3 linked regions of the Homo sapiens genome follow. The protein of the gene in region 2 purifies or fractionates together with the protein of the main gene of each other region. This does not show direct contact. Each region holds a gene or a part of one and is shown on either strand. Other genes may lie near its edges.

What was found.
Region 1: the proteins of DNAJB2 (region 2) and RNF115 purify together in Homo sapiens (affinity purification with mass spectrometry; 3 studies listed by BioGRID and IntAct, with this or other methods). This does not show direct contact.
Region 3: the proteins of DNAJB2 (region 2) and GLB1 purify together in Homo sapiens (affinity purification with mass spectrometry; 4 studies listed by BioGRID and IntAct, with this or other methods). This does not show direct contact.

What each region holds. Positions count from the first base shown.
Region 1 is NC_000001.11:145,738,351-145,744,112, reverse strand, and holds the end of RNF115 (E3 ubiquitin-protein ligase RNF115), read left to right. Parts: 3' UTR 1-5,245; downstream 5,246-5,762. UniProt on the Homo sapiens protein: E3 ubiquitin-protein ligase that catalyzes the 'Lys-48'- and/or 'Lys-63'-linked polyubiquitination of various substrates and thereby plays a role in a number of signaling pathways including autophagy, innate immunity, cell proliferation and cell death.
Region 2 is NC_000002.12:219,282,352-219,287,415, forward strand, and holds the end of DNAJB2 (dnaJ homolog subfamily B member 2), read left to right. Parts: intron 1-485; coding exon 486-578; intron 579-781; coding exon 782-884; intron 885-1,067; coding exon 1,068-1,138; intron 1,139-2,280; coding exon 2,281-2,636; 3' UTR 2,637-3,635; coding exon of another isoform or gene 3,636-3,646; 3' UTR 3,647-4,544; downstream 4,545-5,064. UniProt on the Homo sapiens protein: Functions as a co-chaperone, regulating the substrate binding and activating the ATPase activity of chaperones of the HSP70/heat shock protein 70 family. In parallel, also contributes to the ubiquitin-dependent proteasomal degradation of misfolded proteins.
Region 3 is NC_000003.12:33,094,130-33,101,212, reverse strand, and holds the start of GLB1 (beta-galactosidase isoform a preproprotein), read left to right. Parts: upstream 1-4,066; 5' UTR 4,067-4,127; coding exon 4,128-4,202; exon of another isoform or gene 4,203-4,494; intron 4,495-6,909; exon of another isoform or gene 6,910-7,017; coding exon of another isoform or gene 7,018-7,083. Other genes in the region: TMPPE (transmembrane protein with metallophosphoesterase domain), read left to right, coding at 7,018-7,083.

The DNA.
Region 1 (5,762 bases), on a different chromosome or scaffold from region 2:
AGAGAACTAGAAAGGATCTGAGTACCTTTAAAAAGGGTGGAAACAAAGTACTGGATAGGGGTCTGCCTTTTTATACACAGTATAGCAAACAGCATCAGACAAAGTTACATGAAGTTTTCTTCACTTTTTTTGCTCTGGTGGATAGAGGATGTGAGACTCATTTTACTGTTTCCCAGACCTGTCCCACTTAATGGATCTGTTGTGTTTCTTCTTATAATGGCAGGCACCTCAGATGTCCAGGTTAATTTATGTTGAGGAGTTAGGATTCTTCAGGGATTTATTATTATTATTATTATTATTTATTTATTTATTTATTTATTTATTTATTTTTTGAGATGGAGGCTTGCTCTGTCGCCTAGGCTGGAGTGCAGTGGTGCAATCTCAGCTCACTGCAACCTCCACCTCCTGGGTTCCAGCGATTCTTCTGCCTTAGCCTCCCAAGCAGCTGGGATTACAGGCACCTGCCACCATGCCCAGCTAATTTTTTATATGTTTAGTAGAGACAAGGTTTTACCTTGTTGGCCAGGCTGGTCTTGAACTCTAGACCTCAGGTGATCTGCCAGTCGTGGCCTCCCAAAGTGCTGGGATTACAGACGGGAGCCACCATGCCCAGCCTGAGATTTATTATAAGGAATTGGTTCACACAATAATGGAGTTTGAGAAATCCCAAGATCTGCAGTGGGCCAGCTAGAGATCCAGGAGAGCTGATGGTGTAGTTCCAGTCTGAAGGCCAGCTTGGATACCCTAGAAGAGCTGATGTTTCTGTTCCAGTTCAGAGGCAGGAAAAGACTGAGGTCTTAGTTCAAGCAGTCAGGCAGGAGGACTTCTCCCTTACTTGTTCTATTCAGACCTTCAACTGATTGGATGAGGGCCACTTACATTAGGGAGGGCCATGTGCTGTATTCAGTCTACTGACTGAAATGTTAGTCTCTTCCAAAAACACCTTCACAGACACACCCAGAATACTGTATGACCAAATATCTGGGCATCATGTGGCCTAGTCAAGTTGACACATAAGATTAACCATCACAATGAGGAAAAACAGAAATGATACATGTATACAGAGTGCTCCTCATCCCAATTAAGTTTCACCAAGTTAATAATGTGTCTCTATGAGAAGTGGTTCACCATGTTGGTCAGGCTGTTTTCAAACTCCTGACCTCAAGTGACCACCCGCCTCGGCCTCCCAAAGTGCTGGGATTACAGGTGTGAGCTAGCACTCCCAGCCGACAGGTGCTTCTTAAATGTTTTCTTTGAGCAGGAATTGGTCCAGGAATTGGTTCTCAAGTTAGAAGGAAAATTTGAGGGGAAGAACTTGTTTTTTCTCCAATCAGTCTCTGATTAAATAGTTATTAGGAAAAACTCCTTGCTTATGTCTTTGTATTGCACATTTTTATATATGTATATATGTGTAAATAGAGATATTTATATATTCACAGACAAACACGTGTATGCACATTTCACAATGGAGGAAGAAGGGATATGGTGTGCACTGAGGTAAAGTGAGCAGGGATACAGAAGAGAGCTGGAGCCTCACAGTCTGATTCTCTCATTGTACATAACCTTTAGGGTCTTTGTTTCCCTGAGTTCTCTGGTATGGGGCACTGTTGGCTTGGGCTGGTACCCTGTTATTCTCTGTGATGAAGGGATTCACTGGAGGTAAAAACGTAATCATTTCCAAAGGTTGAGAATAAATGACTTTGAGGAAAGGGTGTTCATTATCCGTTGCTTCTATATTATAATCAGTTGAACTACAATACGGTTATCTATTGATTTTTTTTAATTTTTCTGACAAATTATTGACACCAAATTGAATAATTCATGACCTGCATGCTTCAGCTTCTTTCTCCCTGGTTTCCAGGTGCTATTCCCTCAAGAAATGCAAATTAAATATGTCGGTCTTAATAAATCAGGAGGGAAGCATAGTCTGTGTCTGTTTTAAATGACAACAACAACAAAACAGCTTTGGGGTTTAAGAAGTGGAAGACACATTTTTATTTTTTTGAGACACAATCTCACTCTTTCGCCCAGGCTGGAGTGCAGTGGCGTGATCTCAGGTCACTGCAACCTCCCGCTCCTGGGTTCAAGCGATTCTCTTGCCTCAGCCTCCCAAGTAGCTGGGATTACAGGCACGTGCCACCATGCCCAGCTAATTTTTGTATTTTTAGTAGAGATGGGGTTTTGCCATGTTGCCCAGGCTGGTCTCGAACTCCTGATGTCAAGTGATCACCGACCTCAGCATCCCAAAGTGCTGGGATTACAGGCATTAGCCACCACGCCCAGGTGAGAAGACAGATTTTAAGAGAAGGAGCAGGGCTGGTATCTGAATAGGTATTTGGATGTTAGGGGAAAACCCTTTTTGGCCTCTGTGGTAGAGCGATCGGAAGGTAAAAGTGCTGTTTACAAGAATAATCCATTGGAGATCTGGGGATTGGGGACGACTTATAGGATAGAGTCCTCTTGTTGAGAATTTCCCGAATGAATCTCATGTAGGTTCTGTCACAGTAAGATGGAGGAAAACTTTGATGGGGTAAGTATCACAAGTGGCTGTCCTATAGGGGGAAATCCTAGCCTGCAGTAATGTCAGTGTCTCAGTATTCAGCCAGCGAGCCACTGAGCTGCTCCAGGGGTTTAAAATAGAATGCATAGAATACAATGTATACAGCTGGTGATGCTTTCCAGGATCAAAATAGAGCCCTTGTCTGATCCCATTGACATTGTAAGGTTTCGATCTCTCATACCTGCCACAGACAAGTACATTGTAGGCATTCAACTTTTAAGGTTTTATACATGCAAACTTTATGTTTTCCTGCCACACTACACTTGGTGTCCACAGAAGTGTAGTTTGTATGTTGCCTCTTCTTCCTCTTTCAACCAGAACACTTAGATCTGTGATCATAGGATGTAAGCCTGTGATTCTTTACTTTTTCTAATAAGAAATACAATTTTCAAGATCCAAAAATTATTAGATTCTTGGCTGGGCATTGTGGCTCATGCCTGTAATCTCAGCATTTTGGAAGGCTGAGGCAGGCAGATCACTTGAGGTCAGGAGTTTGAGACCAGCCTGGGCAGCACAATAAAACACCATGTCTACTAAAAATACAAAAATTAGCCAGGTGTGGTGGCATGCACCTGTAGTCCCAGCTACTTGGGAGGCTGAGGAGGGAGAATCGTTTGAACCAAGGAGGCAGAGGTTGTAGTGAGCCAAGATTGTGCCACTGCACTCCAGGGCAACAGAGAGAGACCCTGTCTCAAAACAAAAACCCCCAAATTATTAGATTCCCTTCCAACAACTTGATAGCCATATTATTAGTATTTTTGATTAAAGAATACATAACAAAAAGCTGCTATGATTTCAGTAATGCTTTTAAGTTAATTTATTAGTCACACCAGAATCTACATCCAATTGAAATATATACAAATATTTGAAAGATATTTATTCAGGCTGAAGATTATGGTATATAGATTCCTTCTGATAACCTCATGGCCTCACAGGTTCAAAACCCGTGTTTGTGAATCACTCATACAGATTGGGGCTAAGATGCGTGTCCAGAAAACCACCTATTATGCATGAAAATTTGTAGGCTTATTTGAAGGCAATTGTATCAACACATTTTGAAAGCCAAGACACAAGTATTTTAAGTTTCTGTTTAACCAAGTCTCGAGATAAGCAGAGTAAATAAACTCTTTAGAAGCAAGACTCAGTTGGTATGTACAAAGTGGGATTGCTTTGTATATATTCCGCTTAGTTTGAGTCAGAGCTAGTAATCTGATGCTCTTAAATGTCTTCATAAACTTGGGCAGTGATGTTTCCTTTCTGTGATTATGTGTCACAGATTTTTATATGTGGACTATAATTAGTATAGTACAATGGCTGAAACTTTTCCTATAGTTGGATATATCTTCTGAGACTTCCAGTGATTGTATAATGTTGAGTAGCTCCAGAAGATTATTTGAATAGTAAAAACAAAAGACATCTCTACCTATGTGAGTTTATTATTTAGTTAGAAACACAGAACTAACTATTTAAAACAGGTAGAGAAAGATTAAGATGAATGTGATGTAGTGGAGAAAGCTTTGGAGACTTTGGAGTCAGAACTCAAATGGCTCTAGGTCCCAAATCCAGACTCTCATTTTGATTCTCAGAACAATTCTGTGGAAAGAGAAGATACAATAGGCAATATCCCTTTTTACAGATAGGTAAACAGAAATAGCATCTCAAAACCTCATTTGCACTGGGTGAGGTGGCTCACGCCTGTAATCCCAGCACTTTGGGAGGCTGAGGCGGGTGGATCACTTGAGGTCAGGAGTTTGAGACCAGCCTGGCCAACATGGTGAAACCCCGTCTCTACCAAAAACACAAAAATTAGCCAGGCATGGTGGTGCATGCCTGTAATCCCAGCTACTTGGGAGACTGAGGCAGGAGAATTGCTTGAACCCGGGAGGTGGAGGTTGCAGTGAGCTGAGATCATGCCACTGCACTCCAGCCTGGGCAACAGAGTGAGACTCCGTCTCAAAAAAAAAAAAAAAAAATTCATTTGCCCAATGACAAATAGCTGGTATGTTGCAGAGCCAGAATTTGAATCCAGGTCTTTTTGCCTCCATGGCTAGTCCTTTTATCTCCATGGGATACAGTCTAAAATCCTTAGTTTGAGGTTCAAGACTATCACTAATAAGAGTCTTACTCATCTACTTCAGCCATATCTCTTTCCGTTCCCACAAACCTTAGCTCCCACATTTGGCAGGTCCTTGCCAAGGAGCACAGGTAAAGTGTCTCTTTCCTTTTAATGGCTCACCATGGAGCTGTAGCTAAATTTCTGTGCTCTTACCCCTTTATTCATGTAGTTCCTCCTATCAGGAATATCCTGCCCACTCTCTGCTTAACTATGACAAGAGGTCATCTGTCCAAAGAGAAAGAAGAGAGTTTGTGGATTTAGGAGAAAAGAAAAGACTCCAAATACTGCTATGGGCATTTATTTAAAAAGAGAAATGACCAAAGAGGTTAACAAGTATTTAGATGAAGCTGGGCAGTTGTAGTCTGTGGTGCTCTTGGTCTGCACAAATCTTCCTCTTCCTCCAGCAGTGCTGTATGGATGTTGTTGAATGTTGAGGTCTGTCTGCATTTTCTCATTTTCATGCCAAGTCAATCACTGGATCTGGCTGTCTTCCTTTCTGTCCTACCTATCTTTGCTTGTTTTCTCTCTCTTTCCTTTGCAGTGTTAAATAAAAATTTATTCCCCCAAAATTTGGTGTTCTCATTTTGTTTGACTTATTTTACTATGTTGATGAAGAGGGAGGAAAAGTTTTTCTGGGGTACAAAAACGCATATATTTATCCGATATTTGAGGACTATACTACCCACTTTGGTGAAAGCTGTTCTGTTTATTTACTGGAGCTTAGGAGGGAAGAAGGCAAGTTTGCCCTGATGGTGAGGAGCAAAGTCAAGGATTACACTGATTTGCCCCAGCTTATATTTCCACAGATTCTTGGTATATTTAGCATCTCTTCCCCTGTGCCCTGTTGCATTCTTCTCTGTGCCTATTGTAATGAGAAAGATACTAAGCCATAGTCAGACTCATCTTGCTGTAGCTGTTTTAAAAGTTTCTTTTGGCACAAGGCTTACAAAGCTGTGGAAAGAAAGTTTGTATTACTGCCTTATAACTTAGAATAGCAACAAAATACCTGATATAATGAAGTCTCACCTGTCCTGAGATGCGTGCGTGATAGGCCCTCATGACTGTAAAGGGATTGGAAAAGGAAAG
Region 2 (5,064 bases):
AATATTGTTATTATTACCTATAAAACAGATAGTGGTATTTTTTAATGATAGATATGTGCCAAATATTTTACATTTCGTAAGTCTCTAGTGAATCCTGACAGGTGGGCAATTTTCTCCCCATTTGCAGATGAGAAAACTGAGGCACAGTTAATAGCCCAGAGTCACATAACACATGGCAGAGCTGGACTCCTAGCTGTGTCTGCCTGTCATCGCGTCATGATGATTTGCCTGTACTGAAAGAGCCATCTGTCCTCCATCCCTCTTCCCCCTCCTTCCTTCCTTTATTCTTTATTGTGGACAGAATTAACCAGTGAGTGTTTTCGAATTCAACATTAAAAAGGAATTTATAAATAAGCCCAACTAAAAAGCGGAAAAGAAAAACCCTACCCAGTTGCTTAGTGGTTTATACTTCCAGACTTGGGCTCACACACTTTTGAGGGGAAATGTCATTACCAGATGACTGCTAATCTGTTTACTTGTTGCAGATGACCTGGGCCCCTTCTCAGAGCTTCAGAACCGGGGTTCCCGACACTCAGGCCCCTTCTTTACCTTCTCTTCCTCCTTCCCTGGGCACTCCGGTAAGTTCTGCCCCTTCCCACGTTTGCAAGCTCCGATTCCTGGAACCCCTGGCTTGAGCTTGTTGCTTTTCCAAGCCTGTCTCCTGTGTTGGGAGCCCTGCCTCCAGCAGCCCTGCGAGGCGGCCTGGAGCCTCGGTGACCACAACAGGCAGCGCAGTCTTCTTCTAACCACCTCTCCTCCTCCTCCCTTGTCCCGATGCCAGATTTCTCCTCCTCATCTTTCTCCTTCAGTCCTGGGGCTGGTGCTTTTCGCTCTGTTTCTACATCTACCACCTTTGTCCAAGGACGCCGCATCACCACACGCAGGTGAGAGCTCCTTCTGGGGCCATAGAGGGGTGAGAGGTCTGCTGGGGAGCTGTGTTCAAATAGAAAGTTGGCTCCTTGAGGGCAGGGCCCAGTCTGCGCTCTCTACTGCGGTGGCCAGAACTGGGACCAGCGCCTGCAGGATTCTGTCACTGCTCGTTGCCTGAACTGTGCTGTCTCCCACAGAATCATGGAGAACGGGCAGGAGCGGGTGGAAGTGGAGGAGGATGGGCAGCTGAAGTCAGTCACAATCAATGGTGAGGAGCAGCTCCCCTACCCAGCCCCTGGCAGGAAGCCCCAGCCCCAACCTCAGCAGCCTCCTCCCCAAACTGCTGCTCTCTGAACTCACTTAGGGCTTGGGAGGGAGTGGCAACAGGCCAGACTGGTAGGATCAGAGATGGCAATGTCGGGAAGGGGGTGAAGGAGTCTCACGAAGCCATCGCCGTCACTGTGAGTGGGGTGCCTTACATTTGCAAAGCACTTTACTATTTTTAAAGCACTTCCAGATATACGATATCCTCTGTATTCTTCAAGCATCTGGGGGAGTACACAGGGCAGATGGTATCCACTTAGTTTTAATTTGGGGAGCCTGAGCTGCAGCATAGTTAAATGACCCTAACTTCCAAGTAGCCCAGGCCCAAGACTCTTTCCTTCCAAGTAAGGAGTAGAGCCAGGAGTCAAACTCAGGACGCACGATTCCCGGAGCAGAACTGCCCCTGCAACACCATGCTGTGCAGGGCCGTCACCACAGCTAACCTTTCACGCCTGCTGACTCCCAGCACTGCGTACCAAGCCCTTTACATGGGCTGACATATTTAATCATTGGAACAATTTGAGTATGAAGGCACTATCATCATTCCCATTTTCTTTTTTTTCTTTTTTTGAAACAGGGTCGTGCTCAGCCCAGCACGATTATGGCTCACTACAGCCTCGACCTCCTCGGCTCAAGCAGTCCTCCCACTTCAGCCCCCTGTGTAGCTGGGACTACAGGCGTGTGCTACCATGCCCAGCTAATTTTTAAACTATTTTGTAGAGATGGGGTCTCACTATGTTGCCTAGGCTAGTCTCGAACTTCTAGGCTCAAGTGATCCTTCTACCTCGGCCTCCCAAAGTGTTGGGATTACAGGCATGAGCCACTGTGCCCGGCCATCATTCCCACTTTCTAGATGAGGAAAGGGAGGGGTAGGGATGTTGAGTGACTTGCCTAAGGGTAGGAGCTTCTACCTGGTAGAGCTGAATACTTCCTTGTGCTCAAAATCACAAGCCTAGGTGCCAAAATGCATGTGTGCCAATTCCAAATAAGAGACTCTAAGTGGTCAGGGTTGTTACTGTGTGAGGCAGCCTGGCAGTAATACCCCTGGCTCAGGTTGGGGCCTCATGGTGGCTGTGACTCTTGCAGGTGTCCCAGATGACCTGGCACTGGGCTTGGAGCTGAGCCGTCGCGAGCAGCAGCCGTCAGTCACTTCCAGGTCTGGGGGCACTCAGGTCCAGCAGACCCCTGCCTCATGCCCCTTGGACAGCGACCTCTCTGAGGATGAGGACCTGCAGCTGGCCATGGCCTACAGCCTGTCAGAGATGGAGGCAGCTGGGAAGAAACCCGCAGGTGGGCGGGAGGCACAGCACCGACGGCAGGGGCGGCCCAAGGCCCAGCACCAAGATCCAGGCTTGGGGGGGACCCAGGAGGGTGCGAGGGGTGAAGCAACCAAACGCAGTCCATCCCCAGAGGAGAAGGCCTCTCGCTGCCTCATCCTCTGAACACCGGGCCCAACCTGATCTGATCCAGATCTTGACTGGGGGGTCTGACTCACTGTGGGAAGAGAAGAGGGGAGTATCCTGAGTTGTAGGAACTGCTTTCCAACTCCAAGCTCCCTCCACAAGTTTCCCTCCCAGGCCCCCCACACCCCAGTGTGGACTTGGGATTTGCTGTGCTCAGCCCAGGGCTGATAGGTCCCTGGTGAAGCCCAGGGTGGGGGGTGTCAGGGCAGTGGAGGGGCCCGAGGAGCCAGGTTGCATTTATTGGATGGGGAGCTCCAAGGGGCATTAGTGGTTTGGGCTGGGCCTTTTGTGCCCTGGTACTCTGCCACCTGTGTTGCTGATGGTGTCAAGGAAGGAGGACTTGGCCTAGGGTTGTCTGAGCCGGAGCCGGCAGCTCCACTGGAGAGCAGTGCAGGCAGAGTGGAGCCTCCTGCTCTCCTGGACCAGCTGCAGACCCCCAACCCTGGTTTCTGTGCCATGTTGCGCTCTGACCGTCTCTGTTGCTTCTCTTCTGGTGTTGCTTCTCCTCCCTCCCATTCTCTCTGCAACTCCCTGCGGGCCGCATCGCTTGCTTTCACTGCCGTCTGGCTAGGACTCCCTTCTTCCTTCCTTCCCCGAGAAGGCCTCAATGTGGCGAGGAAGATGCTGGGGCCGGTAGGGCTGTGAGATCTTCTGGGGAGGCTAGCCGGGTGGGGCGGGAGCCTCTCAGCTGTCCAGATTCAGAACTGGAGCCCACTCCTCCTCCCTCTCGTTGCCTCAGCCTGCCCTCACCCTCAGGACTAGGCAGAGGTGAGGCTGGCTCACCCTGAAGAGGTGGGATAGGACCGGGGGACCCCAGAGGGAGGCCTAGGAGGGGACTGCACCCATACTGCTTCCCTACCACAAATCAGGGCTCAGGGAGAGGCCATGCGGCCAGCCCAGGTCTGCATGCTGAGCCCCATCCTCCACAGCTTGCCGCTGACGCTCTCTCCTGTCACCCCGCCCCTGCTCTCTCCCCAGATGTGTTCTGAGCTGGATGCCGGGTTCCAGAATCGCTGCACAGTTCCAACAGGACAGCGCCTTCCCCCATGCGCTGGGAGGGGACCCTCCATTTCTCCCCCTCACCCATGCTGAGTGTAGAGCCGGGGCCTGGGTGGCGGGTGGGGGCCGGGTGGGAGGTGGCAGTAGTCTTAGCCTGTGCACTCTCTTCCTTGGGTGTTTGGTGCTGGCTCCTGGGGACTACAAATCCCAGAGTGCGGTGTGCCCGGCCTCATTTCTGATAGATCCCGCTTGGGGGAGGTGGTGTATGGTTACGGAGCTGTGCATCTTGGGACATGTAGTAGCCCAGGTCGGCTTGTCACTCGCTGTGAGATGGGGAGATTTTGTCTTTTGATTTATCCCTGTAGGGCTGGCAGGGTTGTAGATGAAGGGGGAATGATCTGAGCCTTGGTTCCCCTGACACGTCTTGCTAGCCCCAGGGTTAGAGTGGGCAGGGCAGAGCCGCGCAGCACCTGGGAGCGGTACCTTTCCCTTGGGCAGCCTGGGGTCCCAGGAACAAGCCAGGGCGAGTGGCATGTCTGCCTGAGCAGGGTGTGGCCCCAGAAAGCTGAGGAGTGTGGGCTGGCAGAGAGCTTCGAGGGCAAGGCCACCCGCGGGGGCGTGTGTGTGGTGGGGCTTGGCATGTGATGGCAGCTCCAGGCATGCCGCTGCTTGTATGGCTTTCTTTGGCCTCTGACCCTGCTGCCCATTCTTTCCAACATCACAGATGAACTGCCTCTCCTCCTCCCTGCCTGGGGAGCCCAGTGGCCAGGGAGGGGAGTGGTGGAGCCAGTCGCTGTAACACTGAGCCTCAGAGACGAACCAAAACCAGCTGGGCTGAGCTCAGATCCAGGGGGAAATGCTGGAAGTCAATAAAACTGAGTTTTGAGAGCTTGGTGGTGTGTTGTGTTCTTGGGTTCCTACTTTCCGGGGTGGCCCAGGAGGGCCTCTAAGGGACAGTGGGTGACACCTCAGGCCTCACACCTCCCTTTATGCCCCTACAGCTAGAGGTGCAGGCCTTGCCAGTTGAAGGCAGAAATGCCCTCTTTGACCAGGCTGCCCTCCCCAGGTATGTTATGGAACCCCAAGCAATGCTTCATTCTTTGCTTTCACCTCTTGGGGGCCTACAACTGGCTTTCCCTAGCAGCCGATGTTCCCCTTATGAGTGGCCTCACCCCCTAGTACTCCACAGCACAGCTAGGACCATACTCAAGTTAAGACTTAACTGAGGCTGGGCGCGGTGGCTCACGCCTATAATCTTAGCACTTTGGGAGGCTGAGGCGGGCAGATCACTTGAGGCCAGAAGTTTGAGACCAGCCTGGCCAACGTGGCAAAACCCCATCTCTACTTAAAAAAATACCAAAAAAAAAACCCCCCAAAAAACAACAAAAACACAAAAAGCTGGATGTGG
Region 3 (7,083 bases), on a different chromosome or scaffold from region 2:
AAACAAAAACTACTAGAGGCCAGGCGTGGTGGCTCACGCCTGTAATCCCAGCACTTTGGGAGGCCGAGGCAGGTGGATCACCTGAGGTCAGGAGTTTGAGACCAGCCTGACCAACATGGAGAAACCCCATCTCTACTGAAAATATAAAAGTAGCGGGGCATGGTGGCACATGCCTGTAATCCCAGCTACTCAGGAGGCTGAGGCAGGAGAATCGCTTGAATCCAGGAGGCAGAGGTTGCAGTGAGCCAAGATCGTGCCATTGCACTCCAGCCTGGGCAATAAAAGCGAAACTCTGTCTAAAAAAATAAAAATAAAACATTACTAGAACAATGAAATAAAAATAGATGCGTAATGATTTTGTTCATTATTAGATTCAACAGATAGACTTACTTTCTCAAATTGCTGCAAGTTTCTAAGTGCCTAGGCTGAATTTCTGTACTTATTGCACAGCACTGGTCTAAGGATCAGACTCTGAGAAGTATTAGTCTATATTAGAGCATGTACCATGTTTAGAGATGAGTGCCTGCAGGGTGACAGCCTTCTCATGGTCCCTTCATATTCTCCAGTATGCAGGGGGCTTTGCATCCAGCACACTCTGTCTGTGCATTTAAATGGGAACCAAACAGTACACTATGAGCAGAAGCATAGCCTTGTGAAAATAACTCAGGCCCTAACGTCAGGCAATGTAACTTTAGAGACTCTACTGCTCCCCAGCTCTGTGGCTACTGGCAAGTCATTTAACTCCTCTGGGTCTCAGCTTTCTCATCTGTGAAATGTGGATAAGAGCATGCAGCTCGGATTGGGAGGAATAGTGACACATACTGGTAAAGCATTCAGCACAACAATGGCTATTACTACTATTGCCATTTCAACTACAAACATAGTCAAATACTAAAAATCTCAGAAACAATCTACAATCTATATTCCTTTGGCAAGCTTATACTGTAAAGGGCTAGAACATAAATATATTCAGTTTTGTAGGTCCTAAGATCTGTGTTGCAACTACTCCATTCTACCGTTGTAGCGTGAAAGCAACCATATGCAATATGCAGAGGATTATAGGTGGCTGTGTTCTAAGAAAACTATTTATGTGTAATCTTGGCACTTTGGCAGCCAAAGTGGGCAGATTACTTGAGGCCAGGAGTTCAAGACCAACCCTGGCAACAAGGCAAGATCTTGTCTTTAGAAAAAAAAAAATTATTCAGGCATGGTGGCACTCGCCTGTAGTCCCAGCTACTTAGCTACTCAGGAGGCCGACATGGGACGACTGCTTCAGCTCAGGAGTTCAAGGCTGCTGTGAGCTATGATTGCACCACTGCACTCCAGCCTGGGTGACAGAGCAAGACTGTGTCTAAAAAAACAAAACAAAACAAAAAAAACAAAAACCAACCCCACAAAACTTTATTTATGGACACTGACACAGGAAACTTACAACATTTTCAAATGTCATAAAATATTATTCTTTTGATTTTTTTTCATTCATTTAAAAATGTAAAAACCATTTTTAGGTGGCAGGCCATAGAAAAACTGGCAGCAAATTGTGCCGATTCTTAGTAAAAAGAATTTTAAAAAGAAAAAGAAAAACAGGCAGCAGGCCAGATTTGATCCTCTGCCCTTAGTTTGCCAACTCCTGCTCTAAACCCTTTCTACCTCAGTTCAGTTAAAAATACCTATTGCATATGATAACCCTGAGTGTACAGAGTAGGAAAGAAGGTAGAAGAAGTTGAATCTGCCATGTGTTAAGGATTTTTGTTTTGTTTTGTTTTTAAACTTCGTTCTGCAATAATTTCAGGCTTAGAAACAAAAAGTTGAAAAAAAGAGTAAAAATAATTCCTTCATTGATTTTCCAAATGTTAACATTTTACCACATTTGCTTTTCTTTCTCACGTTCTTTTCATGCCTGGAATACCATTTCTCTCCCTCTCTCTCTCTCTCTTTCTCTCTCTCTCCATTTTTTTTTGTGAACTGTTTGAGAATCAGTTGCAAAGATGATGCCCTTTTGTTTCCTAAAAAACAAGGATGTTCTTTTATATAACCATTACCAAAATTACCATTACCGTTACCCAAATCAATACACTAATACAAAACTATTATTTAATATTTAGACCGTGTACCATTATCAAAATCAGAAAGTTAACATTGATGCGGCCGGGCACAGTGGCTCATGCCTGTAATCCCAGCACTTTGGGAGGCCGAGGTGGGCAAATCACTTGAGGTCAAGAGCTCCAGACCAGCCTGGCTAACATGGTGATACCCCATCTCTACTAAAAATACAAAAATTAGCCAAGCCTAGTGGTGGGTGCCTGTAATCCCAGCTACTTTGGAGGCTGAGGTGGGAGAATCACTTGAACCTGGGAGGCGGAGGTTGCAGTGAGCCGAGATTGTGCCACTGCACTCCAGCCTGGGTGACAGAGTGAGACTCTGTCCCCCCACCCCCCCAAAAAGGAAATTAACATTGATGCATGGTACTAATCTAACCTACAAGTCTAATTCTGATTTCATCAACTGTCCCACTAACATCCTGTATATACCAAGCTTCTTATCGTCATCATCTCTGGTAATTTCCCCAATTATCCAGTGAATTTGATATTATTAGCCCTGCTTTACCAACAAAGAAACTAAGCTCAGAGAGGTTAAGTAATTTGCCCACAGTTACACAGACAGTAAGTGGCAGAGCTGGAATTCCAACTCAAGTGTACTTCCTCCAGAGCCCTTGTTCTTTAATACTGAACTAGAATTGCAGAGCTTGGAAAGGACTTCACAGTGCAAGGACACGGAATTGGTACTACAGGCATGAAAAGAAGCCAGGCACGGTGGCTCATGTCTGTAATTCCAGCATTTTGGGAGTTCCAGGCAGGTAGATTGCTTGATCCCAGAACTTCAAGACCTGCCTGGGAAACGTGGTGAGACCCTGTCTCTACAAAAAATACAAAAATTAGCCGGGTGTGGTGGCGCACGCCTGTAGTCCCAGCCACTTGGTAGGCTGAGACGGGAGAATTGCTTGAGCCCAGGAGGCCAAAGCTGCAGTAAGCCGTGATTGCGCCCCACTCCAGCCTGGGTGACAGAGTGAGACCCTGTCTCAAAAAACACAAAAACAAAACAAAAAAACAACCCCCCAAACCAAAAAACAAAAACCTAAGAAAAGCCAGTAACTGATACTTTCTCAATCTCTCAATGAAATGTCCTTTCTGATACTTTCTCAATCTCTCAAGGACATGTCCGGTAGGAAAGGAGAAAGGAGTGAACAAATAGAATTTTGGCTACTTTGTTATACAATGTAAAAAGGCTTTTTGGAACACCAAGGCATAAACTAAGGTTATTTTAAAAAAGAAAATTTTTTTTTGATACGGAATTTCGCTCTTATTGCCCAGGCTGGAGCGCAATGGCTCGATCTCGGTTTACTGCAACCTCCACCTCCCGGGTTCAAGCGATTCTCCTGTCTCAGCCTCCTCAGTAGCTGGGATTACAGGCGCCTGCCACCACGCCCGGCTAATTTTTGTATTTTTAGTAGAGACGGGGTTTCATCATACTGGTCAGGCTGGTCTGGAACTCCTGACCTCAGGCGATCCGCCCGCCTCGGCCTCCCAAAGTGCTGGGATTACAGGCGTGAGCAGGATTTTCATTCTAACAAGTTCCAGGTGAGTTGATACAGTGGCTCCAGGGACCGACCACATTTTGCTAACCCCCGGCTTAGAGTTATTCAAAGAGCCCGTATATGAGACGCGGATTCCATCTAGGGCGTTTAGGTTTAATGATTAACAATTTCCCTCTTCTGCTCTCTCAAGGCAGCCAGGGAACAGGGAGACCATGATTCATGTCCAATCCCCGAGGCGCGTTATCAAGCTGCTGAAAGCAGGCCCTCCGGACTGCAGTTCCAAAGGGTCCCTTCCCAGGGAAGACGCCTGCAAAACCCAGATAGTACTATCCTGGAGTCACGCGGCGGCGCGCAGCCTCCTAGCCGCCCCCACCCGCCCGGCTCGGCCACAGCGGGGCGGGGCGCGGGGCTGAGCAGGCGCGAGGGCTGGCTGCTGGGCCGACGAGGGGCGGTGCCAGGCCGTGGGTCCTTAGTCAAGTGACGCGAAGCGGCCGGCCTGGGCGCCGACTGCAGAGCCGGGAGGCTGGTGGTCATGCCGGGGTTCCTGGTTCGCATCCTCCCTCTGTTGCTGGTTCTGCTGCTTCTGGGCCCTACGCGCGGCTTGCGCGTAAGTCTGCGGGACCCGGGTACGGGGAGGCATTGCTAGGGGACAGGCTGGCGGGGAACCGGGCTGGGGTCGCAGCCACCCGCGGTCCCGCAGGGCGGGGAGCCTGAGCCCCGAAGTGCCCCCCAGCAGGCTCGCGGCCGGCGGAACGCAGGCAGTGGACCGGCCTTCCCGTCGGGGGCGGGCCGGGCGGGGCGCGCGTCCTTCCAGGCAGCTCGGTCGCTTGTGCGTTCCGCTCCGGCCGCCCTTTGCGCTTGGATCCACTTCCCCATCTGTAACGAGGTGTTGAGACGAGGTGCGTGTAAACATTTCCTAAGTTGGCTTTCCGGGAGGGGATTCCAAGTTGCGCGGGTTAGAGGGTGCCTCCGGCTCTGGTTTGGGGCGCCCTCGCTTTCCCAGTTGGTGCTCTGCGGAGCGCTCCGGAAGGAGAAAAATGGGGTCAGGAGAGGCCCTTGCAGTGGGAACATTGGGTTATTTCCCCTCTGGGTGCTCTCCCTCTTCGTGCATCTTGTTCCTTTCTCACCACTCCCCGTCGCCTGCCCTTTGGCTTGGGTTTTTCTTTGTATTTGTGGGACCGTTTTCCTTCGGCGTTTGGGGGTCCAGGTTGAGGGGGGGAATAGGCAGGCTGCCGGGGGATGCCATCGTTGATCGGGGCAGGGCTGGCGAGGCGAATAGGTGAGGTGCGGGGCGTGCACAGTTGGTGGGAGAGGAAGGACAGCTTCACTCGCTGCGTCCGAGCTGAGGCGACTGGCTGAGGGGCTCCAAAGCGCTGCCTGGGGAGGTTTGCATCACACCTGCGGAAAGGAGAGTGGGTAGTTGCAAGCTGCTCCTCTGCACGTTCCGCGGACCAACTTTGGTTCCTCCAGGGTGTAGGTGGGCTGAGCCTGCAGTATGCTTTAAGTAAGAGCTGGTAGCATTTGACACCGTTGACTTGTAAGTTACACCCTTTAATAACGCTTTCAATAACGTGCCTAGGGCAGAGAAAAGTGGTACATTTATCTACAACCAAGATTGAACATCTTAAGTATTTGGAAAACAGCTGCTGAAAATGTTTTCATTTTGGGAAAAAGTCAGCACAGATTATTTGCTGCTCCCTCTTCACCCCGTCTGTGGTTCCCCTACCCCAGTATGTAGACAGAGTTTTCTTGTCCAGAAGGCCCGTAGGACCTTAGGAGTCAGAGCTAGCCAGCTGTGAGAACCACTGGGGAAGGTGGAACTGGGGCACAGTTCAGGAGAACAGTGGCAGGGTAAGGGGCTAGGGGAAAGGCAGATCTTAACCAGTATCTGGGAGTGGGGGTAGGGAGAGAGAGAAGGATTTATGAACCAGGAACAGGTGGACAGGGTCAATCTGTCTGATGTGAGCTCATCAGTCTTGTGCAGCGTCATTGGGTCAGGGTGGATGCCCTGTGGCTGCCATACCTGAGGCCCACACAGGGAGGCTGGCATCACCCCAGGAATTCTCATTTCAGGTGCCTAGGTGTCCCTCTTGGGCTTCTGTGCCCACAGCTAAAGAAAGATACCAGCAGTCTAGCTTTCCATTATCTCCTTGTTTACATTTCTTTAGGGTTCACGCCATTCTCCTGCCTCAGCCTCCCGAGTAGCTGGGACTACAGGCGCCCGCCATCACACCCGACTAATTTTTTTCTTTTTTTGTATTTTTAGTAGAGACGGGGTTTCACCATGTTAGCCAGGATGGTCTCGATCTCCTGACCTCGTGACCCAGCGGTTCTCAAATTTTAACTAAATTTTAGCTGTCCTAGAAATTAAGAGAATATTCCTTTTTTTTTTTTTTTTTTTTTTTTTGAGACAGAGTCTCGCTCTTTTGCCCAGGCTGGAGTGCAGTGGCACGATCTTGGCTCACTACAACTTCCACCTCCCAGGTTCAAGTGATTCTCCTGCCTCAGCCTCCCGAGTAGCTGGGATTACATGCATCCACCACCATGCCTGGCTAATTTTTGAATTTTTAGTAGAGACAGGGTTTTACCATGTTGGCCAGGCTGGTCTTGAACTCCTGACCTCAGGTAATCTGCCTGCCTCGGCCTCCCAAAGTGCTGGAATTATAGGCGTCAGCCACTGTGCCCAGCCCTAGAGAATATTTTAAACTATTTGTTAAGAAATACTACATCATTACACGTTAATAAACAATATATATATTTGAAAAACAATAGTATTTCTCCCCAAATTTTAGGGTGAAGAGTTGCACTGTTTTACATTTCTGCAAATCTCTTTCAATGTCTCTTAATAGAAGACAGTCAAATTTTCATGTTTATTTCTGCATTAAATCTGTTGCCATATCACATGTCACATAGCCTCTGGAAGACTCCACCCCCTCAGGACAGAGTGAGAATGGAAAAGGCAGTAATGGCTTGGAATTATAATAAAAATAGTTTTGACTAATTGGACCCCTGAAGGGCTCTCTCCAGACCACACTTTGAATACCGCTGATTTGGAATGTTTTTATAAAACAAGTACATGCTTACTGTAGAGAAACTTTAAACGTATAGAACATGTGGTAAGAAAATGAAAACTGCCCATCATGTCACAATGCTGTGAGTTTCTTTTTGAATAATAAAGTATAGCTAGCAACTGACTGGTATTTGAGTAGCTTGGATTCAAGGTGGGTTGGGCAGATGTAAGTGGCCTTTGAGTTTTGAATGGGTACAAGGACACTCTAATATCCCACAAAGCTGATGCTGGTTCCTGGTTGCAGGCGGAGTTGACCTGGAAACCTCTCCTTGGCCACTGTCCTTTCTAAGGAACTCATTTCCAGAGTCCACCAGCACAGAACTGGTGGGGGAGCCTACTAGGAGCAGAGAAAATGGCCATCTTCAGGCAGCTGTCCCTAGGCGCGAAGGCCACCCTGGCTGCTGTCACTGTCTTCGTG